Linked DNA regions of Homo sapiens: all the other regions are linked to region 2. The links come from fine-mapping of genetic effects on plasma protein levels. A gene starts in region 2. Each other region holds a variant in brackets. All regions are shown on one strand. Distances are from middle to middle.

Region 1 (8,110 bases), 180 kb after region 2:
GTGTGATATATTTCTCTGAATAGCTAGTATATATCCTTGTAGAATAACTGGAAAAGAGACCTTTTCTAAGAAATGTTTTACCTTTACTTGTGATTTAGTGCTGGATGCTATCTAAAATTAACTTTTACTGTTTTCACTCTTGTACACAGAAGCCACCTAATTCATCCAGCAATAATCACTTTAACATTTTGAATATATCTAGCCCTTCTGTTCTATATATAAAATATAATATATTTTATATATTATATAAATATAAAATTTTATATAAATATATGAATATAAAATTTTATTATAAATATATAAATATAAAATTATATTATATATTTTAATATTATGTATGTAATCTCAAAATAGGATACTTTGGTATCAATTTTGGGGAAAATGATAAAAATTTTAATAAAAATAACTTGATTGATCTTTATCTACCTATATTTTTAGAATTATTGTTCCTGAATTTATTTCCAGATCTACTAAGGAATTCAGATAGTCTCATGAAAATCGACTTCAGTTCATGATAATACTGATTGTACCTGATACCCAAGGGTGGACCTTTGAGGAATTATGCATGTTGATTCTGGGTAGGGTCTACCTTGCACTTAAGCAAAGGCCTGGGCTTACAGAATTCAGCTAAGTAAATACAGGTTGGAAAAGATTTGCCTTCATAACATTTTGTGTTCAAGGTCTTGGGGTGTTAGTTGATGGGAAAGTCAGTGTAGGCGTAGTTGTGCACAGCTCAGAGCAAAGCAGGTGATAGTGTCACTGTACTTTGCATTAGACCACATCTGTACAAGTGCCTTTATTCCTGGATGCTGTATTTAAGTGGAAAATTGATTCATTTGACCATGCCTAGCGCATGGTGACCAACATGGGGAAGGCTGCAAAGAGGAAGAAGGCAGAATCCTTGTCCAGGAGGGGCTCATAGTTTAGATGGAGATGGGAGTATAAAGGAAGGAGCCAGGGAAGCTTGGCTTGAAACAGAAGAGGGAATATCACTGCTGTTTTCCGATATTTGCAGGATGAGCAGACTTTTCTGGGAGCGAAGGCAGTTTGTTGGAACAACACACTTGGCTGAGGTCCAAGGCTAAGGGCTTGCAAAATCTTTTGCTTACAAAATCTGGCTTATAATTTTATCATTTATACAGCTGCCCTCCCCAGAGACTCTTGAAAAGACCCCAATACACCTGAGTCCTGAAGAATGAGGACTGGTGAGGGGTAGATTGCTCACTAGATCAGCCTACTGTCACTTCCAGTGTCCTCCTTCTACCTGGCAGCGCCACGTGGCTCCTATTCACTTGCTCGTAGCGTCAGACTTCTGCTCCCTTCATCAAGACCAGCTGGCCAGGAAGTAAGGCAACACCTGGCATACTACTATAGTGCTTCTTAAACACAGATGTAAACATAGAACATGAATCATCTGGGAGTTTTGTTGGAATACAGATTCTGCTGCAGTAGACCTTGGGGTTATCCCAATAATCTGAATTTCCACAGGTGATGCTGCTATTGGTGTTCTACAGACCACCCTGAGTCACAAGGTTCTACTAGAAAACATGAGTCTTCCCTCCAGGCTACAGCCAAATCCCATCAGGCCAAATGACTTTCTGCTCAGAGTTGCCTCACATCTTTATTTGTAGAGCATTACTGCCTGGAAATATTGCCTTATTTTCCTCCTAGCCCTCATGAAAGAATTTTATCCAGATGTCACTTAGCCATCCAGTGTTTTTATTATTGCTAAGGCTGCTTCAGCAGTTATCTGACATGTGTTTTCAAAAATATATCATCTTGATTTTCATCCAAGTTGCATGAGATGCAGCACTTTTTGAATATGTGCAGGATGTGGCCAGAAACTTTAGTCTAAGATAAAAGTATCATTTGCCTGACATTAGGACAGACTTCTTTTCTCCTAGCTATATATTTGTGATTACCCCAATGTAATCACTGACTCCAGTGCTTTATAAAGTGATCTTTAAGAGATCTGTTTATAATACATTGAACACTTGCTCAATGAGGCCACAACCCCAAGAATAATGATGAAATCTGGTTAAATGTATTTGCCTCCCTCTTTAATGATTCCAGCAGGTGACTTCTGTGAGTATTTCTAATTGTCATTGATTGAAGCCCTTTCAAGGTCATGTCCCTTCCCCAAGTAATTGCTTATTGGTCAAAGTAAAGTAATTGAGAGATTTCTCATGATGTGTGAATCCTGGTAGGATCTCAAATATAAGCTCGTGGTGCATTTCTATACAGGTGCTAAATGGTCTTGGGCAAGATACTTAATATCTTTGATCATCTATAAAATAGGGATAATGAAATCTACCTTAAAGAAATTAAAAAGATGATGTCTATGAAAGCACTTGCCATATTCCTGGCACATGACAATCATTCATTAAATGACTTTTCTTGCCTCCTCATTTGTTCCTTTTAGGCCATTTTTCACCCTTTTTTTGGGGGGGCCGTGGGGAGGGACATATTTTACTTCCTTCTTCACTAGTTCACAAAGCACCTTCAGACATGGGATATATATTTTAAACCCCTTTTTAGTTTTTCATTATGTGTTCAGTAAAGACATATTGAATGAATTAATGAATGGCCAATAGTCTGTAACATCTTCTTGACCTCTAAGTTCTCCGATTGTTTGATTCTTCAGTGTTCTAACAACTTAGAAGAAACTGGAGAATTCCCTTAAAATAAATGTCTTCTTTGTTAAAGCATTTCCTTTTGTGCAGTCTTATAAAGTATGTATTACATAAATTATTACTAATAAGTATGAACCTGGGCCTAGAAGCTGGCTGCTATGGTATAAATAACCTCTTTTAGTTTATGACCTTGGGCATGATTCTTTGTACTGGTGCAAATGAGGTGGGTCAGAGGCTGGTCTTGACTCTCTGCTTGCCCTTCACTGTTTACTTTGGAAAGATCTGTGAAAGATGAGCAAGAAATATGTATTTGTTCTTTGGCATGACTTTTGGGATTCAGGCACAATAGACGCTGAGTTTCCTGATATATTCATTTCATTCCTCATAGAAGATGCATTTTGTCTTTTAGATTAAATACCCTTTGGCTTGTGGGGTTAGCCAGCTCAGTGGATTAGAATAGAAGCAGCAGGCCCTTCCAAATCTAGGGGTTAAGCCTAGTTACCTGTCTAGGCTAATCGCTCTGGAGTTGACCATATGAATGAGTTGTTGGAGTTAGTGCCTGGTGAGGCTATCCTCACCACTTTGTCATCATGCCTCTGGGATGGGCAACAAACTGGCAGAAAGTGCATACACTGTCAAATTTAGATCTAAGTTTAAGTCTGGTTTGGGTATGTTTAATCCTTAATCTCAGTTTTTAAGTTTTTTAAAAAAGATAATACCAGTCTCAGGTTTTTTGAGTGATAAATTAGTATATGTGAAATACCTAGTGCAAGCCCTGGCAGTGAGATCAGGCCCAACGTTGATGACAATGACACATTTCAGAAGAGAGGCATAGGAAACAAAATAGTTTTGGCACCTGTGAAAGTACTAGCCCTGTTGTGTGCCTGAGGAGTGTCCCAAAGTTGCTTGTAGCATTTTATGACTGAAGTGCAGACCACAGTGGTAAGGCTAAGAATTTCTTATGGGTTTGAAAAACAGGATCATAATCCTGGAAAAGAAAAAACTTAATTGCATATTTCATTCTCTGATAATTTGAAATACTAATTCCTATGTGACTAGCTTCAACCTTTTCTCCCCTACTCATTATCTAGGAATTGTTATTCAATTATATCTTTTTGTCTACAGAGAAGAAAAAAGACTAATCTTTTCATTCTGACAATGTATTTCAATCCCTGATGTCCAACATGACTTCCATTTCCCTTTAATTCTTGAAAAGGTAAAGATAATAGTTCTGAAAATAACCATCAATAGATCCATTCCACATGAATGGCCTGTTTTAGACATTCATGGAATGAGGGTTCTGATTTGTACTTTGAAGTATTTAAGAAACACTGCACTGAGTTTTGCTAATTAGCTGTGGCTTGTTACCTCATGGTGGACCAATTGATCTCTGTTTCAGAGGCTCAAGATGTTGCCACGAGGGTTCTCAGACAATAGATTCATTGGGTGTCCTACAGTGAATTGACTTGAGGTCTTGGCTCTTTGTGCCATGTTTAGCTAATTTTAGATTGTGAGAGACCTGGTAGTAAGGGGTTGAGGGATTGATGATGGCTGTGATATCCAGAACTAAAATAAAACAAATGTTTGTTCCTTTACATACAGCTATTTTGAACTGGAGAGCAGTGGCCTGAGGGATGAGATTCGGTATCACTACATACACAATGGGAAGCCAAGGACAGAGGCACTTCCTTACCGCATGGCAGATGGACAATGGCACAAGGTT[G/A]CACTGTCAGTTAGCGCCTCTCATCTCCTGCTCCATGTCGACTGTAACAGGTATTTCTTTGTCTTTGAGTGTTGCTGATTCTGCCCTTGAAATCAAGCAATGGAAAAGGGGAAAAAATATCAAATTCCTTCAAGACTTGCCAGGAAACAAACACCAAGGGACCCTAATTGTAATTTAACCTACCAAATGGGACCTTAGGCATGCTGAAATGACCAACTGTAATATGATAAGAAAACAGTTCATTAAGATGAAACTGTATCCCGTGATTAGGAGCAAATGTACAAAAGGTTGATTGCAGATTGGGAAATAGTAAGTGCACCTCAGTGTGCTCCAGGCACTGGCTGGAATTCCATGGAGCTGTGATCACAGTTAACGGTGATGTATTGTTGTTGAGTTCGTTCCACTGGGAAGCGAATAAGCTTGTCTACCCTGGAATGAATCTGAGAAGCCTGTGCCACTGAAGCAGCTAATTCTATTTCACTTCATCAAGCTCACCTTTGCTTAAATATCTTTTCCAAATGGAGGCTTCTTAAAGAGGCTGTTCTCTGAGCCTTTTGGAATTGATGCCAGGTATTTTCTCCAGAGGAATGAGCCTTCCAGCTTGTCAGGGGATGGTGGGACCAGGGGGTTTCACAGGAGGTTTTGGGTTGGGGTGGGATGGAAATGTTGTCTCCCTTGTCTGTCACTGGAGCCAGGTTTAATGAAAATTGAAGAATGAGGGAGTCCATTGGTTTCTATTGGATCATTTATGGCTGGACAGCTGGATAATGGTGTTCAAGGGGAAAGTTTTTATCTCTCCATAACCCACTGAAGATCCTTATGGATAGTGACCCGAGTCCAATTACAGAGTTTTTTTTTGCATTCTGAGCAGTGCCCATGCATTGTTGATTCTCATTAATGATGCCATCAAAGTTAAAATGACTTTTCAGCCACACAAGGCTTGCTCCCTTGAACCCAGGATAAAGAACAGGCATATTGGGGATAGCCTCCCTTCCAAAAACCATCAAGAGGAGAGATATTCCAAGGTCAGTCAGCTTCAGACCGCATTTCTCATGAGGAGATGCTTGAATATGCCTGCCACTCTAGCTCTGCAGTCTCTTTTAGAAGAGTTGGAAGGGCAGGGAACTGTTGTCAGGCTCAAGGGAAGGTTTGCCATCTTGAGGTGAGTCTTGGTCCATTTTGATATGACCTATTTAAGGTGCTTTTTAGACTTCTGAAGAATTGTGGTTTCCACCAGATATAATAAATATGTCTGGACAGAGTTTCCATAGAAACCACTAGCTCCTTTGTACACTGCAGACTGGGGCTGGGCAGCCTGGATAAAGCCAATGCTTAGCTGCTATATCCATTTTCACTTTCAAGAGCTCATTGCCCCCTTCAATTCTCTAGAATTAAAGTGGCCTGTCCGGCAACACTCCTATGACCCACTGTGACCTACCACCCACATGCTGTCTAAATGGGATTGCAGAGGAAGAGCCCTGCTTGTCCTTCTAAGCCACAGGACAGAAAGAGGCCACAAAACCCTAGTTTCGTAATTTCCAACTTAAGAGTCCTGGAGATACTGCTGTTTTCTTGCTATGCAGTTTTTTGTTTCTTCCTTCTAAGAGTTTTACTCTGTTTCCTGACATTCTTCTCTCTGGAGCAGTTCTTAGGTGGTGCTTGGCCTTCAGTGCTCAGTCTACATTTGTGGTGGTTGTTGTTATTTACTCTGCATATCAATGGCAGCTCTTTGACCCTGCCTTCAAACTTTCATACTCTGTATGTCCTTCATGGAAACCATGACCTCTCTACCAGGAGAGTGAGAAGAGGATAGGAGATCTGTAGTTCACAGTATTCTTTAGAGTCATTGCCATTTATAAAGAATTGACTGAGGGTATTCCAAATATTCCTTCTGTTTTCTTAATATTTTTCATACTTTGGCTTGTGGCATAACATGTCCTTTATGTAAGATCTTGGAGGGAAAACTTATGAAGTTGCTGCTAGTTAATGATTCGTAGACTCTAAACACAAATACATTTTTCAGGTAGGTCAGGAGAAAAAATGGACCCAAAGACTGGTCATAAGAAAAGTAAATTTTGATTTTCATGTAGGAAAAGGCTAGAAACATGGTTCCAAAATCTGACTATACCTAAGAATTACCTGGGGAACATATTAAAAAAATGGATAACCAGGCTTTGCCTCTGACCTACTGGATTAGATTCCCCGAGGGCGGAACCTGAGAAGCAATATTTTTAACAAGCCCTCCATATAGGTTCCATGCGGGCAGTCTACCCTTGGTGAATGGACTGGCATTTCCAAACCACTGGTTTAGAAAGAGGGGAAGGAATTTGGTGGAGAGGCTGGGCTACAACAAATAAATGAAGTCGTGGAAGACCAGTTACCTGAAGGAGGGTAAGAAGGAGAAAAGGATTAAGGAGAGGGTAGTGTCTAATGCACGAAACAAACTTTACCTTCTTCACAAGTTTCTTCCCAGCCAGAACTTGCCAACTTTACAGTAGCAGAAGCTCTGTCCCATATATCAAGATGCTGGTTCTATCACTTTTAGTCTCAGCCACCCTCACAGAGAGTGAATTTCAGCTATCCATTACTACTTTGTGATTCTTATTTTTTGATCCCTGTTACTCTTAGAGTTTTTCTCAACCTCTCACCCAGTAGTGTTCTGCTGATTAGAGTATGAAAGGAGATGATGTTAGATAACATTTGATGTTGATTGTGCTAGGCACAGTGCTGAGTACTTTACATAGATTAACTTATTCCATACTCATTCTATTAGTTTTTCCTCTTTTTAAGATGAGGAAACTGAGGTTATATATTTGTCTGTAACCCTGCTACTAATAAATGGCAGCACCAGGATTTGGACCCAAGTTTGACCTATGAGTGTCTGCATCTAGCTACTACTAAGCTATTTAGCCCAATAGTGGGGACCATTGACACTTTATTTGGTACATGAGGGAAGGCCAAGATTCAATGTGAGCAGTTTGTTCCTTTCTAATATTTCCCTGCCACATGTCTTATATTGCTAATCCTGGGAGCTGCTTGGAAAGATGTGAAATCTAATTGATGGAACCCTTTACTTTGGTGCTGGAGAAGGGATATACATTTATTGAGCCTCTACTATAGGCCAGGTAATGTTCTAGTAATAGTATTCCTTAGGATAACCATATGGGGACAGTTTTACTAGATGCATTTTGCATATTTGGAAATAGAAAAGCTCAAGATAAATAACTAGGTGTCAATCACATAATATAATAAGCATATAACCCAAACTTTGAGTCTGAAACTATCTCCAAAACCTTAGTCTAACCCACCCTCCAGGTCACCTCCATAGTGTGCTAATGACATGTACTGCCAAAGACAAGGTCACAACCACACCAGGGAGTCTTCCCAAGGGAGAGATACTACAGAAGGTTCAGGGACCATGAGAACTCTAAAATCGAGAAGAAATTTCCCAGATAATTCCATTGCTCTGAGGAATATTAATGTGGCAGGATTTCGCACATTATTTTTTTAGGTCAGAATTGAGGAACAGCTTTTTCAGACCTAATTGTACAAATTGTCACAAGAAAAGCAAACGCTATTTTAGTTGGTAGTTCAACACTTTCTGCTTGCTACGGAGACACTTTTCTCCTTGTTTCAGCTGTTTAGCTGGGCTTAGTTAGAAGTTCCTGATGTGTGGATAGCAGATTACCTCAAGCTAGAAACATAGAAGGAACCATTCAGTTGGGTGGGGAGACTGATTATCTCCATTGCCTTG
Region 2 (8,110 bases):
AGAGGGACCTGGGAGGAGAAGCAGGGGTGATATAAGATGTTTGGATTTTACTAAAATATGATGGAAAACTCCAGGAGGAGTTTTGAGCAAGGGAGTGTGATATGATACATGTTACAAAACACAGACTATGACTGCTGAAGGTGGAGGTGACTGAATTATACGGGGCAAGAATGGAGGCAGAGAGAAGCATTGAGAGTCTATAGCTGTAGGCTATGGGAGAGATAATGATGGGTTGGAGGAAGGTGGGAGGAGACCTGGTGAGAAGAGAAATTTGACTGGGGATTTTTCTTTAAGGTATACTGACAGGGCTTGATGCCTTGTGTGTGGGGGCTAAGGGCAAGCAAGTCAAGGATGACCCTGGGTTATGTAGCTGGAGCACTTGGTGAAGGCTCATGCCATGTCCGTAGAAGTCAGCAGTGGAAATTTAAGACAAGGGAAAAGTCAAAAGTCCTTAGTTGGCCATATTACAATTTTTTGTCATGATCATTAAAGTATTTTAAAAAACAGCTTGAGATATAATTCACATACCATACAATCCACCCATTTAAAGTATACAATTCAATGGTTTTTACTATATTGTGAATATATGTGAGAGTTTTACATCCATCACCACAATCAAATTTAGAGCCTTTTCATTACCTCAAAAATAGCCCCTACACTTTTGAGCCATTACCCCCTAATCCTACCTCCCTGGCCCCAAGCCCTAGACAACCACTAATCAGATGTTTTGTCTCTATATATTTGCCTCCTGACTTTTCATAGAAATGAAATTGTATAATATATGGTCCCTTGTGACAGGCTTTTTTTCACTTAGTGTGAGGTTTTCAAGGTCAATGTTGTAGTATGTGTCAATGCTTCATGTCTTTTTATTGCTGAATAATATTCCATTATATAGGCATACCACATTTTATTTATCCACTTATTTGTCAATGGACATTTAGGTTGTTCCTACTTTTTGGCTATTTTGAATAATGCTCTAAACATTTATGTACAAGTTAGTATATGGACATATGTTTTCATTTACCTTGTGTGGATATTAGGGATAGAGTTGCTGTACAGCAACTCTATGTTTAACTGTTTAAAGAACACTTTACATTCTAACTAGCAGTATATGAGTTCCAATTTCTCCACATCCTCACCAACATTTATTATCTATTTTATTCTAGCCGTCCTAGTGGATGTGAAGTGATATCTCACTGTAGTTTTGACTTGCATTTCCCAGATGGCTAATGATGTCGAACATCTTCTCATGTCTTTATTGGCCGCTTGTATATATACTTTGGAGTAATATCTATTCAGATCTTTTGCCTATTTGCAAATTGGACCTTTTATTGTCTTGTATTATCTAGTTGTAATAGTTTTTTAGTAGATACAAGTTCCAATCAGATATGTCTTGCAAAGATACTTTTCCATCGGTTGTTTTTTTTACTTCATTGATGGTGTACTTTGAAGTGCAAATGTTTTTAATTTTGATGATGTGGCCATATTATATTCAAGATGTCTAATAGGTAGTTAGAGATGTAGGCCTGGGGTTCAAAATAGAGGCTGGGGATAGAGATGCATATTTGAGAGTCATCCCTGCACAGATATTTAAATCCATGAGGTGGGATGAGCTTAATAGGGAGGGAGTGTGGCGGGAAGGGAAGGGTTGAGGAGTGAGTCCTGGGGCTCTCCAACATTTAGAGGTCAGGAAGAAGAGGCAGAGGGATAATCAAAGACAACTACTGGCTCCTGAAGAACCCATGGAGGTAGGCCATCCTGAAGGGGAGGGTGGACTTGGGATCTGGCATCAGGTAAGATGTTTCAGTGTGGCTTCCACCGAACACAGGTCTCACTGTAACATTCCACCACCAAGTACATACATAGCCATGTGTCCCTTCATTGTCACTAGAGAAACTTGCTGGGCCCATTCTATGAAGGTCACCTTAGCTTAACAGACCTACACACTCAAAATCCCCACTCAAGGGTTGCACTTATAGGAGGAGATTGCAGTACTTAGTTATCTAGAAAAGATTTATGACCTTGTTGAGATTAACTCTTGTTACTGTTAATGGATGTTATGCTGCAAAGCTATGACAGAACATATGTCTTGCTTTATTTTTTAATGGAACAAGCTAAAAGTCCCATCCCACAGGACCAGCTAATTACACAGAGACTTTAAAGATAGAGAGCTCTGAAGATCTTACCCAGACCACCTTTTCCCCTTGCTGGGGTCACTGTACTTTTAAGGATTCTGGGCTTTCTGAAATCAATAAAAGGGCCTTGGAAACAACAGTCCAAAGCAACTCAAGGCTGTTCCTGCTGAGGTGTACTTAAAGACTGCAGAGGAGAGACAGGAAATGGCTCTTATAATACAACATGGTGTATGGTGTCCTTGTCCACAAGGCCCAACAAGACTTGGGAAATCCTATTCTCTTCAAGATGTGTGATTTTAATGTTAGCTTTAAATGCAACACGCTCCGGGTGGAAGGAAAAACACGTGGACTCTGTTAGTGAAAATACAGAGTCAAGGCAGACAGATTTCCTTTGGGTCTTAGCCGAATCTGAGTTGGAGTCAGCTGACATCAGTTTACCTCTTAATCATTCAGCTCAACTTCTGGATTGTGCAGTAGACTTCTTGAGCTGGAATTTACCTGCTTGTTCACTTTCTTTTTCATCTGCCAAAGGACCACAACATAAAGGGCCAAATGGGACAGTGGCTTGCACACAGAAATATCCAGAAAAATAGGGCAGAGACCAGAACAGCATGCTAGTAAAGCCTTCTCTCTTAATAAGCTGCGCTGATTTGGTGAACTTCACTGGGGCTCCTGGGGTCAAAGTTGTGTAGGGGTTAAGGATATAGGAAGTGAAAGTGGGTGCAAGTGAGAAGGGCACGTTCTTATTAGTGAAGAGGATTCTGAAACGTTGGAATTGGTTTCCAGGAAACGAGGGACGGCTGTTCTGAGGTTTCCTTGGACTCCTCTGGGATCCCTGTTGTGAATATCAAAGGAGTACTGCTGGTGAGGGGGAGCGGGGGCTTCAGAGAGAGTGGGAAGACTGAGCAAGCTAAGTGGAGTTCATTTGGTATAAATCAGAGGCTGTCATTTCAGATTTCATGACTCTACATATCCAGTTATAAATAACGTTCCTAGGTGTTAGTAGGACAAATAGGAAGTGGGACAGAAGTCTTAAATTTGGGGGATCTTCATAGGGAAGGTCAGGTCCTGAAAGGGTCGCATAGAGGGGAGAGGACCCATTCTCTTCTTGCCGGCAAGTAGAAAACAAAGCCCAGCCCAGCTTTTCTCTCCAGAGAATGTTGTGGTGGGAGAGGGAAAAGAAGGTGGAGGTCCCGGAGGAATTGCACATGGGGCCAAAATGTGACTATGAAAGAAGAGTGGGCTTTTGATAATACCATTAAGAAAATCACGCAAGAAAGAAAAAAAGATGGTTAGGAATTACCCCTATGTGGCAGCATCTGCCCTGCAGAATGAGAAGGTTTGCAAATAGACTTCCCAAACCCCAACCACAGCTCGCTCCGCCTCGAGGACCCCTTTTCTGCACCCCCACCTCAGCGCCCTCTTCCTGCACCCACAAAGAGAGTACTCAGTCATAGGGGTTCAACAGGAGAGAGGAGACAGAAGGTACAGGCGGTGAGCAGGGACTCAGCCATCATCCCCCTCAGGTCCCTCCCCACCCAGTTGACAGAGCGAATCCCGAGTAATTGTTTTCCGAGGGGGTCCGTGCGCGCTCGGTGGCGCCGCCTCGGTCTGGGTTCCCCCGAGGAAAAATACCCACCCGCGAGGGCTCGGCGGCTTTTCGACTCGGCGGGGATGAACTGTGGCAACTTCGGCAGCCCCCACCGCGGTGCGGAAGTAAAGAGGGCAACATTGGCGACTGCGGCTCGGAGGGGCTGGAGCGCGTGAAGCCGTGGGGGCGCCGTGCGCCTCCCGCTCTCTCGTTTCGGCCGCAGGTCCTGGGACTCCGACTTCGGTGCTCCGGGTGATAGCGGCTGCGGCGCCTGCAGTCCAGATCCTCGCAGTTCTGCGGGCGAAGGAGGCGAACGGAATCGGCCCCCAGTGGGGAGCGCAACAAGCCACAGTAGCCAAACCCCGCGCTCCTGCCCGGGCTCCCAGACGAACGCAGCCGCAGCGGGGGGCCGGGCCCCGAGCCCCACGCCGCCGCCGCCGCGCCAGCGGTGGGGGGCGGGCTGGGGGCGGGGCGGCCGGGGCTGCCTTCCCGGGCGCATATGCGAGCGCAGCACCCGGCGCTGCCGAGCCACCTCCCCCGCCGCCCGCTAGCAAGTTTGGCGGCTCCAAGCCAGGCGCGCCTCAGGATCCAGGCTCATTTGCTTCCACCTAGCTTCGGTGCCCCCTGCTAGGCGGGGACCCTCGAGAGCGATGCCGATGGATTTGATTTTAGTTGTGTGGTTCTGTGTGTGCACTGCCAGGACAGGTAAGCATGACTGTGGCGGTTAGAGGGATCCGGGAAATGGGGGTGCCCACAGACCACGGCGGCGTGGGGAGACCTGGAGCCGAGCTTTGCGCTGGTCTGGGGAACGGCGGTAGCGTGGACCGGTTCCTGGGATCTCTTTGCCCTGCTCGGAGTGACAGGGTGAAAATAGGGACTCACGGGCTTGAAGATGTCCCCGTTGAGTGCCCCTTCTCAGGGGACCCGGCCTCAGGGGCGCAGGAGTGAGGGGCGCGGCCGAGTAGGCGCACCCTCTTGCTGCTAGTAACCGGCTTTCCGTCCCAGGGAGTCGAAACCCGCAGCAGGGCGGGCCCGCGTGCCCCGAGTTCCCGAACTTGTAAGGTGCTGTGGAAACCACTCTCGCCGACCCCCGCCAGGCTGGGAAGGGGTAGCTGCGGGAGTCGCACCCGCAGAGGGAGCGCTTCCGGCTGGCGGGCGCGGCCGGGGCCCGGGAGGGCGCGGTGCGGCGAGGGCAGAGAGCTGCGGGAGAACCCTGGGATCCCGCGATCTCCTCCTGTGCCTTCCTGACTACCCAGGAGAACTCCAGGAGTATTCTCCTCCGCCTGTCTTTGCTCCCAAGGGCTGGGCGAACAATTATCTGAGGGAAATAGAGCAGTGGAGACAATCTGGGGAAATTTTCTCAAGCTCAAACCAGTTTTCTCTTGCCATAATCGCAGGGTTCCGTGTGGGGAGGGGGGAGCAAGGATGACGCTTGATTGTCTGAAGTCCCCACTTCGTTCTGCCTCCGGAGACGCAGTTGTGAGGACTCTCAGCGCATCTTCTTCCTTCTGCTTCCACCGGCTCCCTTGCCCAAAAGTCCCCTGGGGTTCGGAGACTGGCTTGCAGCCGCCTTCTTCAAAGAGCTAGTAGTAGATGCGGGGAGACTGGGGTGAGGTGAGGTGGGGTGAGATGTAGGAAATTGGCAAAAATAGGGCCTGTCAACTGGGGGGAGTGTCGGAGGTTTGCAATCCTACCCAGCCATCCTCCGTACGCGCTGCACCCCAGAATCTGTGTGGTCATTCCCTTTCCCTTTATTCTCCCCCCTTTACCATCCTTATTTCCTTCTTTAGAGGCGTGGCCTTCTCTCTAGGCCAAAGAGCAAGTTCATCTGGAGAGGGCTAAGAAGGGGCGTCTGCACTTGGTTGGCTCAAAAGTTCCCTCCGCTTGCGCCCAGGCGCCCCTCTTTGGCAGTTAGCCCGCTGGAAGATCTAGCGTCTAGGAGCTTTCAGAGGGCCCTTCCCACTTCCCCAGGACTGAGCAGGCAGCGGCTTTCGTCTGGTTAAGAATGTTGAATATGGATTTCTCAAGGGACAAAAGAAACCTCCCATTCCGTTCCTTACCTCTATCCGAGCTTCCCAGGCTGCGGAGACGCCAAGGCTCAGTCTAGCTTAGAATAGTTGCTTCTTGAGTTCAGGCCCATCCGGATGGGTTAGTCTTTTAAAACCAGGACACGCTGAAGGAGTGCGCGCACCCCAGGAAGATCAGGACAGGCAAGACTAGTGCAGAGCGTGGGCTACTGGCTCTGAGCGCGAGAGTCTGGTGCTCGTGGACATCTTACAGAGGAACCGCAGACAGGAAGAAGCTAGGTAGGGAGGGGGCAACCCGTTAGTGAGTTCACATCCCTAAGTGCACATCACTACGGAATATGCCTAAATCCTTTGTTCTCATTACTCCTTTGAAAAGTCGCCAAAGTACCCTTATCACGGAATGGAACGTGTTTCAGGGTTCATTGCTTGTGGAAGGGGTCTTTAAGAACAGGTATTTTCCCTCTTTCCACTTCCAATCCCCTTTAAATCTTGTAAAAATTTCGTTGTAGGGGAAGATTCATTCATGTCTTTACTCATTCAACAAACGATGTCTTGCTGGGTGCCAGGATTTCTTATGCAAAGAGGAAATGACAGTCCTTGACTTCTAGGAACTTAAAGCTCAGCTGGGAATCTAGATAGAAACTGGCAGGCATTTTAATTTTACAGATTGATGGGGGGGGTGGTGGAGAGGTAGGAGTATAAGTTTGTATTAAGGAAATGTGGAGGAGAGACAGTTTGAATTAATTCTAGGGAGGAGTGGTGGTCAGGGATTTGAGAGATGTACCTTCAAGGCTTTCTAGGGAGTTTTCCAGGTGGACAAAGTGGGAAGGCATTCTTGGCAGAGGGAGCAGATTCAGCAAAGGCAGGGAAGCATGGAAGGATCTGACCCACTGGTTGTGGCTGTTGCCTAGGGAGCTTGGGTTCTCAATGTCACTTGGCACTATTTGAACACTAGAGGCCGCATATTTCTTCTACACACATTATCGGAAGAATCAGAGAGACGGGGGAATTACCTCTCAATTTGTACACTTAAAGTATCTTGTAGCTTGAGAGGGTATAAGCGGTAGCTTTCTGGAGGCAGCCCTCTGATTCTGTGCAGAAATCATTTCCACATCATCCATCCACCCTCTTCTTAGGTAACAAAGGCTGGCTTGTGATTATCAGCATCCAAACAGCTGCGTTGAAAGTTTCTTTGTCAAGTGGGACAATTGTTGTCTGGGCTGTTAACAGTCCTAGATGAAATAAACATGTGGTTCACTTAGTGAGCTGCTCAGATATCACCGGCTTTTAATGGAACTGAGTAGATGATATCAGGCACATTTTAATTAAAGCAAGACTGCAGTGCAGACACAGTTGCATATGAAAAGATCTAATGATAGGTGTCATGAGGAGCTGCTTAAATCTGCCTTGTTCAGAGAACTTGTTTTAGAGTGCAAAGTGGAGTCAAGACGGGAGGTGCCATTCTCCAGTTCTTGTTATTTCTGGTTGAGAAATAATTCAGAGATTTTCAGGTACATCACTAATAATGAAAATTTAGAAGGCTACAATAATAGCAGTAATAACACACTATCTCTATGAGTTTTCACCAATGCTTTGGCAGTGTGAATAATTGAAAACTCAATAATTATTCCCACATTGCTTTCCAGTTTGTTTTGGTCACCAGGGCAGAGGGTGAAGGGAGTACCTACACCTGCAAAGCCCCTACTGACCAAGTGAATGTCTTTTGCTGCCACCTGCTGGAAAGGAGAGAATTTTTTTTTTTTTTTTTGAGATGGAGTTTTGCTCTTGTTGCCCAGGCTGGAGTGCAGCGACATGATCTCGGCTCACCACAACCTCTGCCTCCTGGGTTTAAGTGATTCTCCTGCCTCAGCCCCCCCCCCCCCCCCCGAGTAGCTGGGATTACAGGCATGCACCACCACGCCTAGCTAATTTTGTATTTTTAGTAGAGATGGAGTTTCTTCATATTGGTCAGGCTGGTCTCGAACTCCTGACCTCAGGTGATCTGCCCGCCTCGGCTTCCCAAAGTGCTGAGATTACAGGTGTGAGCCACTGCGCCTGGCCAAGAGATTTTCTTTTGGAAGGAACTCTCAGGTGGATCATTAATTATGAATTGAATAATGGAACTGTGAACATGAGCCCCCAGCCTCCAAGGATCATGGAAAATACTGGCCAGCTTGGAACAGGCATAGAGCATATTCTTCAAGAAAATTGCTTTTGGGGTATTAAGGACCTTCGTAGGTGCCCAGGGGCCCAAACCTGATTAAGTGGTTGTGAAATTCTGTGGTTAAATGAGCTCTTGGAGCATTTTTTTAGTCTGCATGGTCCAGAGGAAAACAGCTTCCACCATGGACAATGAG
Region 3 (8,110 bases), 220 kb after region 2:
CAAGGAGTTCACTATATTAGCTGTGACTTTCATTTTAGTTGACTTGGGTGACGCCAGATTTAAGTGACAGATCACTGTGCCCTACCTGCCTTTTTACATGATCCAGTCCACCCAAACTGTCCCTCAGGGACCAGCAGCCTTTGTGCTAAGATTCTGATTTTACTTTGGCTGGCATGTATAGCTCCCCTTCTATAGGGGTACGTGTAGGAATGTGATAATTCAATTTCTTAGTTTGTGTTATCAGCATTAGTCTGTGCCGTGCACATTTCTTGTTTCATTCATTCACTTTTTTCTTGCCTCACCATTCCCACCAGGCCTGTGATAGGAAAATTCTGTGCGTATCCTTAGCTAATCGATAACATTGTTTTGCATGTGTGAATTTTTAGTTTACATACATTATGGACCTTGTTGGTTTTTTCTCTATTTTTTAAACTGTTAATGTTAATATAACTTTAAGCTCACAGAAAACTTATAGGAGTGATACAAGGAACAATCATATTTGCCCAGATTCTGCATTATTTGGAAGGAAGAGAAAGCGTGTATTCATAGATGTGTATACTTATATATACAAACAGTATTGTTATTTTGAACCCTTTGAGAGTTAAGTTGTAAACATCATGACCCTCTACCCCTAAATACTTCAGTGCCTATTTCCTAAGAACAAGACTTTCACTTAAGTATATACTGCCCAGTTAGCAAAATCAGGAAATTGAGTATCAATAAAATACTATTACATAATTTACAGATCTTATTCAAATTTTCCCAATTTTCCCAATAATGTCCTTTATGGGATTATTTCCCCCTGCCCTAGCATCTAATCCAGGATCCCATCTTGCGTATAGCTTTTATGTCTTTTTAAAGTCTCTCTTTTAATCTCCAACTGTTGTTCAGCCTTTCTTTATTTTTCATGACATTGACATTTTAAAGACCACAAGCAGTTATTTTGTGGACTGTCTTTCAATTGAGGTTTATCTGATGTTTCTTCATGATTAGATTTCCTCCTCCCTCCTCAGCAAGTTTTCTTTTTAAAAAAAATACTGTTTTTAAACTCTCTTCATGTTGATACATCTGTATCCAGTTTGTTGATTCCACCTGCTGCACAGAATTCCCTAATGCAGACTGCCTCTTGGAACAGATTTGGCAGGGCTGCCAGGAAGGCAGCATCCGGCAGAGCTTCCTTGGCATCAGGATGGTGTCTTTGTGGGGGCTGTATGACATGGGAAATGAGAACACCACTTTGACACATGTGCCCTGGGTCACCCTGCTTTAGCTGGTGATAGTGGGCCTCAGATGTTTGCTTCTTCAACTATTTCTAAGGCACACGGAGCTATTATGCTTTGCAAGATAAGGTAGGATAGGAAGTTAATCTCTTTGATTGTTTTTTCCTTCATTAATTCATGCATTTAATAAATATTGATTAAGGGCCTACTCTGCTCATTGGAGCTTATCTTCTAGCCTATTGAATACATAAAATAAACTTTTGAATCGAAAGCTCGTCTAACTGTGACAGAGGCAAAGTTGTTAAAATTGAGCTTAAGGTAAATGGTTCAACATTTTCAATTTATTAGTAAAATAGCCTTATAGAAATCATGCTTCTGCCTCGTCACCCAAATACAGTGATTTCCATTTCTCCCTGGCCTCTTTTGGTATTTACCAACATTGAACATCATTTGTGCCTCATTATCTCTATAGGGCATAAATAATTTTGCATTCCCTTTTTTCCAGTGAAAAATATTTTGTATATACTTTCCCTTGTTTCATAACTTGCATATTCATCACACTTAATGACTGTAGTAAATTCTTTCAAGCTGATCTATAACTTATGCATATCTCTTAAGTTGTAAATTTGCCTTGTGTCTAGTTTTTCCACTAATGTTAGGAGAAAAAATTTTAAAGGAAGTGTGTATCATGCTCCTGTGTTAAGGCAGTTTTGACAAATAGTTTCGTCTAAAATCGTTCATTCTAAGATACAAAAAAGGTTAGATTCCTGTAAAGAAAACACATTCTGTCTTCTTTTTAGGAAAACTTATTTTTTCCTGATTATGTTTTGAGTGTCCACTTATAATGGAAGGATAATTAGTAGAGAAAGACCTGATGTGCTTGGAGCTTTGCCAGCTGAAAACCTTGCATGTATTAGGAAACAGCAGGTTTCCAGTGGGGAATAGTAGAGTAATGGACTGTGCAGCTAAGATATAAGACTGCAGCGCGACAGCTCCCAACTGCAGCAGGCTCACCATCACTCACTTTCCTTGACACAAGTGGACAGTCTTTCAGTTCTTCTGCACTTTCCTTGTGAGAACCACCGGAGGAATACATCGCCCTCTGGCAGGAGGCAGTCAGCTCCATCACAGCAGGGAGGAGTGATGAGCTGTCCGTACCTCTGGACACACCTAGGAATGATTCCGCAGCCGTTGCTCAGTCCTCAGCGAGGACTCAGGAAAGCAAGAAATGGACATAGTTCTCGTTTACAGATCACTGTGTTTCATCCCACCCAGAATCTTCTGAGCATCCAATGCTGAGAGGTACTTGCCCGGGGTGAGGTTGGAAGCTCGTGATCAGTGGGTGGTTGCAGGGACTATTTCTAAAGAGGGCACGAATAAAAAGATTTGGGACCAACTAACCGGACCTTGGTAGGATGGAATAACTGAGACATTAATTGTTCGGTAGGCTCTGCTAGAAACTTCAAAGATCCTAGGTAGGGCTCTGACATCTTCTGTATTAGTTATGTGCCTGTATGGATCAGATGAGGATTTTCTTCATATATAGAATTTTTATCTTACTTTTCCTCCATGAGAGTGGGACCTTGTGTGTCTGGTTTCTTGCTCTATTTTCTGTTGCTTAGTGTGGAGCTTAGAGCATAAAAAGTGTTCAATAAATATTTGTTGGTTGGACGATGACTTAAGCTGTGTAGTTCTGTAGACTAAAAACATGATCATCTAGGCAGCTGCAATCTACTTGTTTAAAGGGTTCTCTCAGGTTACTGCAGAAATGAGTAGGACCTAAAGAAACCGAAGTCGGAGAATAGCAGGGTGCAAAGGAAAGTACAGTGGCTTTAGAGCCAGGCAGATAAGAGTTCTTATCCCAACTCTACTACTCACTGCTGTCTTCACTTGGTTAACTCATTTATGATTCCTAAATCTGAGCTTTCGCACCTATAACATGCGTATCAAACCACTTTCCCCACAGAGTTTGTGGGCAGTTCATTGCTCAGAGTGGACACTCAAAAATGTCACCTTCTTCCTCCCTCCCCTGCCAAAAGGGAGACAAAAGCAGGAGGGGCCCAGATGATGTGTCCAAGTGTTAGATCTCTACATTCATGTTATCTGTCATGTAAAGTGTGCCACATATTGGCTTCTCTTCATACAGCAGCTAATGGCATGCATACTTCAAACAGCATATGCACCTTTTGGTTCTGCTTTGAGCCTCTCTATTAGTAACTGTGTTCTTTGCCTTTACAGGATTTATGAGCGTGTGATAGACCCTCCAGATACCAACCTTCCCCCAGGAATCAATTTATGGCTTGGCCAGC[G/A]CAACCAAAAGCATGGCTTATTCAAAGTAAGCACTAACGTTCTTTTTATTGAAGTATATATATAGGCGATGCTCAGTTTTCTGTGTTATTTATTGGAGCCGTGTTTATAATTACATTAGTGGGAAGGGCATGGCATAATAGCTACTAATGTTTATTGAACACTTACTTTGTGACACATGCTTTTTTATGTGCTTGACATGAATAAACTGGTTTACTTGTCACAGTAATTTGTGAAGTAGGTGCTTTGAAACCAGGCAGAGAGTTAAGTGACTTGCCCAAGGTTATCCAGTTCACTCTGCTGCCAGGGATGGATGATCCAGAAGGCAAATGATCCTCAAAATGTTGACCTCCCAATTCTGAAGGATTTACGATAATCTTCAAACTGGTTTCCCTTCTCAGATTATATGTTAATTCAGTTTAGAGTAGATGTCTAGATATGAAAAATACATCTCTGCTTCCTTGAGCTTTGGTTTAATTGCATTACTGGGAACAGAAAACCAAATACTGCATATTCTCACTTATAAGTGGGAGCTAAACACTGAATACACATGGACACAAAGATGGGAGCAGTAGACACTGTGGACTACTAGAGGTGGGAGGGAGAGAGGGAGCCATGGGCTGAAAAACTATTTGGTACCATGCTCACTACCTGAGTGACTGGACCATCCATAGCCTAAACCTCAACATCATGCAGTATACCCATGTAACAAACCTGCGTGTGTACCCCCTACATCCAAAATTTTTTTTAAAAAAACTGCATTATTATACTTCACAGAAACATAAGGATACAGTGATAAAATAAATTTAAAAACTTAAAAATACCATGAAATTTTAAGACAGTCTTGTTCTTTGAAAGAATGACACACTTTTGCTTCTGGCAATATGGCAGACTAGATATTCTAAAAATCCTTCTGCTTCAAAATGACTATAATGCTCGATAAAATACCACAAAAATATTTTAAAATTCAGCATTGTACTTATACGAAAGGAATTCCTTGGGGACCAAATATATGGAGGGGAGAGAAAGCCAGAGGGGTATCAGTACCAGAACTTAGAGCCTTAGGTTCCTTCTTTTTTATTTTTAAAAAATTAAGGTGTAATTCCGCATGTTCTCACTCACAGGTGGGAGTTGAACAATGAGAACACATGGACACAGGGTGGGGAACATCATACACTGGGGCTGGGAGAGAGATAGCATTAGGAGAAATAACTAATGTAAATGACGGGTTGATGGGTGCAGCAAACCAACATGGCACATGTATACCAAGGTAACAAACCTGCACGTTGTGCACATGTACCCTAGAACTTAAAGTATAATAAAATAATACCAAAAAAAAGTAAGATGTAATTTACATACAGGAAAATTCATTCCATTTAATGTACAGTGTCACAAGTTTTGGAAAATCTACACTGTATTATAATCATCATTGTAATTGAGATAAAGAACCATTTCTTTATCTCCAAAAATTTCCATCCCCCTTTGTATTAAACCCTTCTCCTCACCCGAAGCCTTTAGCAACCACTGGTCTGTTTTCTGACCCTGTAGTTTTGTCTTTACCAGAATGTTATATAAATGGAATCATTTATGTGTGTGTGTGTATTTACATAAGTTTCTATGTTGAGATTCACCAAGTTGTTGTGTGTATCAGTGGTTCATTGTTTTCTATTGCTGAGTAGTATTCCAGTTCTGTTGTATGAATGTATCATATTTTGTTTGTCCATTCTTCAGTTGATGGACATCTGGGTTATTTCCAGTTTGGAACAATTATGAATAGAACCACTATAAACATTTGCATACAGGTTTTTGTGTGAACAGCGGTTTTGATTTCACTTAGGTAAGTGTGTAGGTGTGGGCTTACTGGGTTGTATATTAAGTGTATGTTTAAATTCACAGGCAACTGCTAAACCATTTTTCAAAGCAGCTGTGCCAGTTTTTGCATTCCCACCAGCAATCTATGAAAATTTCAGTTAGAGCTTTAAATTTCAACCGTCTGTGTGGGATGGGAGAAATTACTTAGATCCCATGCGTGACTGAGTGTTGGAATGGAAATTTTTAAGGTAAAGCCAGTCCACTATCTAGCAGAAGGAGGCAATCCAGAAACTATCCTGTCTGCATCTCATCTCCAGATGAGAAAAAATAATACTTCCCAGAGAACTAGTAAACCACAGCACTTGAAGGGTTGCAGACTTGACACCCAGATTTACTTTACCCATGAAGCTCAATAAAGTATATTAAAGTGGCCCTGGATTAGGTACCTTGGGAGTCCTGATGAAGAAAATACAAATTATCTTTGGAGAAAGTCACTTTTGATGTAGACCTCAAAGGATGCCCACAGATTAAGTCCATAAAATAGGAGCTCTAAAGCCATCACGAATGACAGTGGAAAGAAACAAAAAAATGCTCAGTTAGTCCTCACAGGGCTACAGAAAATGAAATTAGCAGGTAAAGAATTTTTTTTTAATTTTTTAAAAAACTTCTGTTTAAAATGTTTGAAGAATCAAAATAATAAAGAATGTATGATGACTAGAGATAATAAATAGGCCCAGAGATAGTTGAACTAAAAAGCACTTCCAAAAATGAAAGATACAGTTGTTGAAGTTAAAAAAGAAACAAAAACCAAAAACCTCAGTGAACCTGCTAAACAGATTAGACACAGGTAGGAAGAGCATTTGTGAAATGGAAAATATTGTTAAAATAATTAAACTAATAGTAGTGCTTCAGAGATAAAGAGAAGAAAATAGGAAGGAGGTTAAAATATAGAACAGATACATGTATATAAAAAAAGTTTACGTATCTGTTTAATATGTGTGAATATGTATGCATATCTATATAAAATGGCTGTTCTGATGCCTCTATGTTTTCTAAGTGGCTTCTTAGATAGCTGAGATAGATAGCTTCTTAGATATGTATATTATTATAATATACATATATTTAAAAATTAAGGAAGATAATAAAGAATATATTATGTCTATATATGCATATATATTTGAAAATTCCAGATAGTAAACAGAGATAAAGGTTATGGGCACTATTATAAGTATAACGGGTAAGAATTTTCTAAACTTAATAAAAGACATTAATTCTCATTACTGAAAGAACAATGAAATAAAAGTATATGTTGTTGATTTCACATAGAAATCATAGAAAACATAGAGGCATCAGAACAGCCATTTTATTTAGCTCAAAAACCAATTTTTTTCTGCTTTGACCTGGCTAAGCTGATACTTGTTAGGCTGTCTCCCATGTCTGTGGTTAATTGGCATGCTAGCAGGTGGCAGGATGATCTGAGAGCCTCTTCACCTCTCTGGGGGTTGGCTGGCTGTTGACTCTTGTTCCTCAGTTGTCCTCACATGGTCTCTCATCTCCAATGGCCTAGCTCAGCTTATTTACATGTCATCCCTGGGATTCCAAGTATCGGAAGAGTGCAATCCCTAAAGTACTAATATTTTCAAGGCTTTGTTTGCTTGATCACATTTGCTAATGTTTTATTGCCCAAAGCAAGTCATATGGCCAACTCCAGAGTCAAAATGTAAATAAATAGACTTCATCTCTTGAAGGGCTGCTCCATGATATCACATTGCAAGGATATGGATGCAAGGAGGGAAGAATTTTTTTTGGCCACATCAGCAACCTATTATACAAATCAAGATAAATAGACAGCCACACTTAGATATACTGGCAGAATAGCAGAACTCCAAAGACACAGAGAAGATCTTAAAAATAGCCAGTGACAAAACACAAATTTTTCACAAAAGGATAACAAACTGAACAGCTGGTTTTTAAACAGTAAAAGCAGAAGTCAAAAGACAGTAGAAAAAGTGTTTTCCAAGTTTTGAGAGAAAATAACTTTCAAATGTAGTAGTATATACCAAGCTTAATTGTCATTTGAGAATGAGTGTGACATAAAGACATTAGTAGAGAAATGAAACTCTCAGTTTATAACCAATAGATCTTCATTTAAAAAACTTCCTGGAAGGAAGACATACAGTGCAAGAAGAATTGGAGAGCAAATGCATGTTGACAGTATGCACAAATCTCAGTGATTATTATTCTGAATGATTGCCATTATCCTTGTTTGATTAAAATATAATAATGCTTAATTTTAGAAAAATAATATTAAAAATATTGACAATGGAATCCTTCACCATCAACCAAAATATCCGGGTTCTGTCATCAAAATTGACTAGAAGGCTGGCGTGACTCATGGAGAGAAGGAGGAACAGTGCGGTGCGACGGCCCATCTGAGAGCCACACGGGAAAGGGGAGCCCCCTCCCTGCAGCCAAGGGAGGCAGATTTCCAGTAACTCCAGCCGGAGACTCAGGGACAGAATTCGGATTTCCCTGGGCCTGAGCCCCTAGCGGGAGAGGTGGCCACAGTCTGTGTGGACCAGCAGACTTAGCCTCTTGTCTTGGTAATTCTGAAGAATCCGGGCAGTCTAGACGAGTAGGTTTCCCCCCAGCAAAGCACACCCGCTCCACCAATGGCCAAAATGCCTCATTAAACAGGTCCTGCTCCCTGTGCCACCCAACTGAGTGAGACCCTCCAACAGGGGTTGTCAAGCACCCTATACAGGAGCAAT
Region 4 (8,110 bases), 260 kb after region 2:
GGCAACAGAGTGAGTCTGTCTCAAAAAAAAAAAAGAAAAAAAAAAAAAGGCTATTAGGGATGTATTAAAAAATGTGAGATGTTTTAGTCTATTATTTAGAGTTCCTGCATAGATCTCTGAATGCCATCTCTTGAAAGTTGTTGTTTGGACATGGAAGTAATGAGTCCTTCGGCAGGTTTGTGTCTTAACTTTTTGACGTTTTTTTAAAATTATAAAAGCACTGTGCTTTTGGCTTAACATTTTGAAAACACAGAGAATCATAAAGATCAAGATGGAAAGTTCACCCATAATAGCTCCACTTAGAAACACTCTTGAAATTTTAGTGGATGTGTCCTTTTTTTAAGAAAAATTACATTTTGTGTGCAGTTGAGGTTGTATTGTGTGGGCAATTTTTTATTCTAGTCTGTTAACTTGCCATTGTCACTTAAATATATTATTATGTTTTAAAAACTTCTGCATAAATGTCATTTTCATGAGCTTCATTGTTTCCCATTGTTTGGCTGTTGCATAACTTTTTTTTAACCAGTCCCAAGTCATTGATATCTAGATTGTTTCCCACTTTTCACTATTATAAAGCACGCTTAAATAACATGTTTTGTATAGAAAACACATTTTTGTATATTTTTGTATTTTATATTTCCTGAAAATAGAATTCTTCAGGCCAGAATTACTGGGCCAAAGATGAACATTTTCAAGGCCCTGGATACATACAGTTAAATTGCCCTCTCACTAGACGTGTGTGGGACGGTCATTTTTCTTTGTGCTAATTTGTTTGATAGTTTTAGGTTTTTAAAATTATTTCAGAAAATAACTCAATTTTATTAAAATGTTGATACACACACTAACTAAAACATCAGTTTTTTTTTTTTTTTTCCCTTTGCATGGAATTCATAGCAATTTAGTTAGGTAGCACTAATTTTCTCACAGCTCTGATTGGTAGTTTGATGTGTTCAGAGTTTAATAAAGTGGGAATACAAATAAATTATTAAAACACTATTCTAGACAAACTTAAAAAGAAATGATACAAGGCACCTCTGGTAATTAAAAGGTTGAGAACTTCTGGGCTGGAGGGCTTTCATTTCTCACTAGTTTTTAATAGAAATATGCATTAGGTGATTACTGAGTACTGATGCCTGGAATAATGATGAGGGATCCTTCCCTGCTTTAGAGGAGCTCACTTTCAAGGTAGAGACGTGGTTTACAGTGTCTGGAACTGTAAGTGCACTAACATTAGGCATGTGTTGGAGTACAGAAGAATGGCCTGGGAGGGAGGGGGAGAATACCGGGGGAAGGCCTGGGATGCTTCCCGGAGGACATGGAGCCAAGTTAAATATTTTGAACCTTCTAGAAGTTGACTTTTGTGGGTTAAGCAGTGGGGTGGAGAAGAAGAGAATGAGGATTGCTAGAGCAGAGTTCTAACACTAATCAGTGGAATTTCTAGATGTTTCCAATGTCTTCACATCAGAAACATGGTAGAGTATATTTACTTTGGTTGTCCCTTTTAAATATAAGTATGTGAGGTAATGCATATGTTAGTTAGTTCTTAGCCATACCACAGTGCCTACGTATTTCAAAATATCATGCTGTAGACCGTAAATATGCATACCTTTTGTCAGTTAAAAAATAATAATAAAATATAAAAAAAGACAAAGAAAAAATTGTATCTTGTATGAATAACTTATAGTCAAATCTTGTTTTTTAATCCAGTCTGACAGTCTGGATTGTATTGTTTGGATTGGATCATTTAATCCATTCACATTTAATGTTGTGAGGGATATAAGTGAAACTACTGTTTCCTGAATACCATGTTTTTCCTTGGTTTGGTTCCTTATTTTGATTTTTTTTCATTTTTTTTGTGGAGCTGCCTGAAGTAAATTTCTTATATGTGAATTTAAAGAAAAATTCCCAAGCTTCTCTCTGACTTTAGGTGGGGTAGTATTCTAGGGACACCAGGTAAAGGTAGGGCTATGACAAAGGCAAAATGAGCCAATATGTAAAAGCAGATTGTGTTGTCTGCTCACTCACTGAGTGTTCACGGACTTCTCTTGGCCTTGGGAACTGCAGCACTTACAGATGAGGGCGTCTGTTTGGAAATAGGGAAGAAATTTATCTAAGCATCCATGGCGGTACCGAAAATAGTGAGGGAGTTTCATTCCTCAAACACTTGTTGGGTGTCTGCACTATTCAAGGCATATTTAATATACCTATTTGCACATTAAAATCCTTTGGTGAACTTCTTAAACTTGGAGGTTTCCAGGGCTCCACCTAGACCTACATAATCACAATCTCCAGGCATCAACATCCTGAAATCTGTATTATTTTGGTAGACAGATTTGAGATCTACCAGAGATAGGAAGGAGGGAGGAAGATGGAGAAAAAAATATTTCTTCTATGCAAAACAGTATGTGTGAAGGAATAAGAGTGAAAGAGGGAAAGGGGAATAGTGTGTTTGATGATAACACAGGATTTATGTAGGTGAGAGGTTGAAATAGAGCTGCAAACGTGAGTTGCGGATGGATGATGAAGATTGTATCCCAATGAAGCCATTCAGTAATCCCTACCGAGGTCCTTCTGCCAAACACTTTGTCAGTTCTGGGGGCAACAGTGGACACGTATGGATCATTTACTCTGACAGGCACTGTGTTTAACCATTTTATATGTATTCATTTAATTCTTCCAACAACTTTAAGTGGTAGGGTCCGCTATTATCCCCATTTTACACATGAGGAGGTGAAACAGAGAGGAGAAGTAACTTGTCCAAGGTCTCCCAGTTTTGGGGGAGCCAAAATAAAGCCCTGGCAGTCTGGCTTCAGAACCCAGTGGGATGCTCTTGACCTGTTGGCTCTAACCATTGTTCTCCAGAGAGATCTCTGTTACAATAAAGAATATTATTTCACATGAACACTATGGAAGACACAGAAGTCACACAGAGAAGGGAGTGATTAACTCCATCTGAAATGTACATATGTATGTGTGTGTTAGGAAAACGTCATAGGTAACAGCTGAGCGGGGTATTGACAAATGAAGAGGAGTTTTCCAAGTGTACAAAGTAGGTAAGAACATAACTGCCAGAGGGAATTGCATACACAAAATCATGGAAATAAACCAGTGTTGGTTTTGGTACTGCAATCAAGGTTTTAATGCAGAGTTGTGGCATAATCAAAGATGTGCTTTTAGAAAGGCTACTGCATCAAGAGAGCTGGAGGTGGTGGGGGATATGGGACTTGGGCATATTCCAGGTGGAGGTGTTGAGGCTGGCAGGCAGGCACAGCCTGGGAAGATGCAAAGGAAGGGAAGGATGTGGGTGACAGCCAAAGGAGCTGGCACATTAGAGATACTCCACAGGTATTGTTTTGCATGAGACAAATGGATCAGGGACAGAGCGTCTGTAAGGGAGAAATTGCCAGGTTTTGAACAAGAGCCTGTGGGAGACTCACGGTGTGATTAACAGAAATAAGACAGGTGGAGAAAGCAGTATGGGGAGCAATACATTCCGTTTGACATGTTTGAGTTAGAGATGCCTGAGGTACAACTAGTTTGATGTGGGTGTCTTGCTCATAGAGGTGGTATCTGAAGCCAAGGCTGTGAATTAGCTCACTGAGGGAGGAAGGATCTTTGGGTGTTCAGTCTCTCTGATCTGCCACTCTCCTTTAAAGTGTAAAACAGTGTGCTGATTTTGACATTCTAGGCCGCTGAGTACCAAGGGATGGCTGGAGTGTGTGCAGGGTACAAATACCTAAATAAAGATAGGGAAACCTTGTATCCACATCTGACAG[G/A]GATGTCAAGCTGTACTTGTCAATTGTTTATTCAGTGTGCACCCAAATGGCAAAATTGTCCAATCATTGCACCAGAAAAATCAAGGTCAAAATTGAAGGGCCAGGTGTCTGTCGGTGCAAAAAGATACAGCTGCATAACTCTTTATATCCTCAGTACATTTTGTTTCTGACATAATGGAGAAGTGTGTGTTGGTGCTAGGTTTCAATTTTGTGTTTGGGCACTGTGAAATATTCTAGTTTGCATGTCACCAGTGTGATATGAAGAGCTTTAGGTATCCATTTACATTTCTAATCACCCTGAAAGATGTTCGAATGGAGTCCCAAATGCCCCAGCCAAACGCACCAGAGCCTGACTCACCTTATGCTTGAATTTCCTCAGACATAAAAAATAAGCCTTTTGGCTATAGATCAAGAGGTTGGATAATAAGGGCTGATATTAGGCATAGGAATGCAGTGGCAGGGAAGGAGGGCTGTTGTCAGAGAAGTGAGGATGAGTATGAGAAAGCAGGAGAAATTCTTGTGACCTCCAGTGGTGATCCTGAAAGTCATCCTAAGATAATTTCATAGATACATACATTCTGCACTAGTGCCAAATTGCAGATGGTTGAGGCGTGCAGTAATATGTTGATCTCATTCACCAGCACCAAAGCACCCTGCTATGTGAGTACATAAAGTTCAGTGGACATTTAATTTTTATAAGAGACTGGTGGATTCGAGGGGTGGATGTGTCTCCATGTGTGGTGTGAATGTAAACAATGAGGCATTTTTATCTCCAGATTAGGAGTTTTGGGATGAGCCTGTCAAAGGGGAAGAGAGGATTTGGACAAGTGCCTTAAGGCAGGTGATCAAATGTGTTAATACCATTGTGGGAGTGGCAAGGGGCAAAGGAAGAAAAAATGTCTATTTCTTCGCTTCACAGCTTGGGCCAAGAAGCAGATGGCAGATTTGACAACAGTGCACTTAGCAGAACTGTCACTTTGGAACAAGCTGCCTTGCCAAGTTGGCAGCAGGCACATTTGGGAGTGTGGGAATTTATTAGACAGGAATTCCAGACCTTGGAGGTGTGGTCTCTCCATGCAAGTACACTGGGAAATCTAGCTCTCATTAGGACCAACGAGTCATGGTCAACTGATTTATCTACAAAATTGAGGCATAAAAGATGATCAGGGATAGATTTTTGTTTACTGAAGGGAGGAAAGGACCTATCCAGACAATTATATTAATTCTCCATTTTTTTGGTCTCTACTTCTAATGTTTGAAGTTGTATTGAATGCCAGAAATAACTCTTATCTGTGGATCAAGAAATTTGACTGTTTTTTGCCACCTACTAGAGGCTCATTAATTGGAAAATTATTATTACTCTCAATAAATCCTAAGGCATGGGGCTTTGGGCTGGAGATAAAATTATAGACATTTTCCCTACCCTCATGGGGGTTGCAATTAGCAGCAGGGACATGGTGGGGTGTACAATTAAATGGGAAATTAGGATGTCATGTGATATATATTCTGTTGGGATTAGGTTCAAAGTACAATAGAATAAAAAAGTGAGGACGATTAACCAGTGTTAAAGGGTAAGAACAAGTTCTGAGGGAAGTCAGCCCTAAGCGGAAGCTCATGGGTGTATAGGGTGGGAGGCTGCCAGTGGAAGGTGGATGGGGTGCTCTGCACGTGTTTCTGAGAAAGAGAACGGTATATGTAAGGCCCGGAAGTGAGAGATAAAGCATGGCTAGAACATATGTGGAGGTGTGGATGTTTTGTAGGGTGAATGAAATCACGGGAAATGGTGGGCTGTGAACCTTGGGAGATAAGAAGCCTCATGAATGGCCTTGTTTGCTGAACTAAGGATTTTGGACTTTATTCTGAGAGCTTTAGGGACCCTGATTTCAAGCAGGGCCTCATGTTTGCACTTAAAAAATATGTGTCTGACTGTTTTATGGGGAAGGACTGGTGAAGATTGAGACTAGAACATGAGAGAGCTAGGAAGTTGTGGTGGTACTGAAGAAGAGGGATGACGACAGCCTGAACAAAGACAGTGTCTGGGGGCAGAGGGTGAGGAATGGAGAGGAGGAGGTTGACTTGAGAAACTTAAGAAGGGGACATTGATAGGATTTGGACACTGATTGGACATGGAGTTGTGTAAGAGGGAGAGGTTAGAAGGTTGCCAGGCACTAGGGTGTGGGAGCTGGGATGGATACCCATGCCATTGCCATTCACTGAGAGGAGAATACAGGAGTGGAACATATTTGGGTGGGGAGTGAGGTTGCTGCAGGTCAGGTTCTGAGGGGAAACAGACTTTGACATAGAGATTTACATGTACTTTATTAGGAAGTGCTCTCAGGATCAATTCTGGGATAGGAATGAGGTGGTGAAGGAAGAAGAATTGGGCAGAAGGAGAAGTTAAGCTGCAGTGGTTACAGCAAATGCCGAACTCATTCCTACAGGGAGCTTTGGAGCTGGAATGGCCCTTCGGAGTTGTCCTCAGTTGGAGAAAGGGGGCCAGGACTGTGTACCATGTTCACCCATCAAGAGAACTTCACCTTGGGCAAGGTGGCTCTCTACAGCCCTATACAAGTCTTAGATCTCCATTCAGGGGAGAGCCGTTAGTTGCCAACTGTCACAGCAGTTGTAAGAATGTATCCTTTGCTCATGGAAGTGGATCTCCATGTACCACAGCATCCACTACAGGGTATGACGTTAACTTAGGCATGTCCCTGGACTTTCTTCTTCCTGTGGCTAAAATGGACTAGATGACTACTGTTTGTTTTATTGGAAGGGAGGAATGAAAGCCCCATTTCTCACCTGGTCATCCTCTTTGCCTTTCAGATCTTGCCCCTCAACATCGAAGGGGGTCTAGGTTCTTTATCTGCAAACACAGCACTTGCCTCACTTAGTAATTATACATTCACTGATGTTATTATGTAATTACTGTCTATTTCCCTGATTGTAAGCTCCATGAGAAGAAAGCTTTGGTTCTTGCAACACTATATTACCAGTTAGCATGTTGCCTGCCCTTTAGTAACACTAGAATATTATTTGAATGAAGAATAACTGAGCATCCCGTGAGAATCAGAGGGTTTTATAACTAGTAAACCACCAGATTTAATCAGCCCATTTTTAGCAGATACAGATATAGAGGCTCTGAAAGGTGAGGTGGTTCTATAAGACCAACACCGAATTAGTGGGTGAGATCTCTTAGAGTGCGTATTATTGCTTCTGTTCCTCCTAGAGCTGGGGCTAGAAGGGTCCTCATCAGGGCAGGAGAGGGAGTGACCAGATACTTGCTTCTTTTTTTCCTGTTGAAGTGGATGGAGAATTTGGTGGTGTTATATTAGGATCATATCAAATTGACATATGCTGTACTTGCTTAAAAGTGAGTCAGCCAGTTAAGTCAAGAAATGAGTTTCAGTGCAATCTAAATTGAGTGGTAGGAGCTCCGTTTATGTTTCTCTTTGAAATTTTCTACAAGTTCACCCCCGCTGCCCTTCCTGGCAGCCTTTTGAACTCACCTTTCCAAAGGCATTCTCTCTAGTGCATTGATCTAGCACTTTACAGGCTTTCCTTGTATTTCTCACTTGTCTCACATGTGTATTTCTCACGCCCACTCCCATGATCACAAGGAAGAAGAAATGGTGTCCTTCTCCATTGTGGCTGAGGTTCTGAGGAATGGAATATATGTGAGTCCCCTTTCACCCAGTTCATTTTAGCTGGAGTGTCTGAATCAAAGCTACTGCTAACTGTACTCCACAGCGATTGCCACCAGTTCTTTCTTGTTTTAGCTTCTTACTACATCAGTTCATTCTCTAGTTCCTTTGGCAACTGTAACATTGAAATAATTGTATATCCTGGCTGTAAAGGCCAGGCAAACACAATCATGATGAGGTCTGCCTGGGAGATTTAAGGGTTATCCTCCACACAATTCCTTTCACTTTAGACAAAGAGATTTGTATTGCTCAGAAGCAGAGAATCTAGGTTTCTGTGGAATCTATTGGAGTTAGAAGGTACCTCTGAGGTCATTTTGTGGCACAGCAGGACTGTCTGACCCATTTTTATGTTTTATTACAGCAAAATGTATCTATGGAGGAAAAGTTCTTGCAGAAGGCCAGCGGATTTTAACCAAGAGCTGTCGGGAATGCCGAGTAAGTGTTAATTTTATGGTCCCTATCACTTCTGGAAAATGAATAGATAGATGTGTGGGCTTTAGATGAGGTTCTTGAGTGGGGCATATTGGCCTGGATAGGGCCCCGAGGGGTGGAACTCTCTGCGGTGGGTTGGATTACATGATGGCGAGGATCCAGCCAGGCCATTTATGTGGTTAGCTTGTGGTCAGCTGTGGA

Which allele goes with the higher level. Alleles are on the strand shown, and positions count from the first base shown. The strength of an association depends on the size of the effect and on how common the allele is. Not every link is listed here.
For the plasma level of the protein whose gene starts at base 4,239 in region 2, A is the low allele of the variant in region 1 and G is the other (moderate association).
As copies of G replace A in region 3, the plasma level of the protein whose gene starts at base 4,239 in region 2 goes up (moderate association).

What was found. PIP is the chance, under the fine-mapping model, that this variant and not a neighbour inherited with it causes the effect. The UK Biobank Pharma Proteomics Project read protein levels with antibody pairs (Olink). The fine-mapping took linkage between variants from a reference panel, not from the people measured, so its PIPs are less certain.
Region 1: its variant is fine-mapped to the plasma level of the NELL1 protein (UK Biobank, PIP above 0.99). The variant lies in the coding sequence of NELL1. If it changes the protein, the assay may bind it differently, which can mimic a change of level.
Region 3: its variant is fine-mapped to the plasma level of the NELL1 protein (UK Biobank, PIP above 0.99). The variant lies in the coding sequence of NELL1. If it changes the protein, the assay may bind it differently, which can mimic a change of level.
Region 4: its variant is fine-mapped to the plasma level of the NELL1 protein (UK Biobank, PIP 0.97).

The regions. Positions count from the first base shown.
Region 1 is chr11:20,843,348-20,851,457 of GRCh38, forward strand. It overlaps NELL1 (neural EGFL like 1), which reads left to right. Exons shown (of 20, transcript NM_006157.5): 4 at 4,236-4,406. Among named protein-coding and RNA genes, the nearest start is that of NELL1, 180 kb to the left of the region's middle. The variant G/A (reference allele first, on the strand shown) is at 4,357.
Region 2 is chr11:20,665,348-20,673,457 of GRCh38, forward strand. NELL1 (neural EGFL like 1) reads left to right here and starts at 4,239. Exons shown (of 20, transcript NM_006157.5): 1 at 4,239-4,431. The coding sequence starts at 4,377.
Region 3 is chr11:20,881,986-20,890,095 of GRCh38, forward strand. It overlaps NELL1 (neural EGFL like 1), which reads left to right. Exons shown (of 20, transcript NM_006157.5): 5 at 3,459-3,555. The region is part of intron 2 of LOC105376585 (a long non-coding RNA gene); the gene reads right to left. Among named protein-coding and RNA genes, the nearest start is that of NELL1, 220 kb to the left of the region's middle. The variant G/A (reference allele first, on the strand shown) is at 3,530.
Region 4 is chr11:20,929,948-20,938,057 of GRCh38, forward strand. NELL1 (neural EGFL like 1) reads left to right here. Exons shown (of 20, transcript NM_006157.5): 10 at 7,839-7,912. Among named protein-coding and RNA genes, the nearest start is that of NELL1, 260 kb to the left of the region's middle. The variant G/A (reference allele first, on the strand shown) is at 3,777.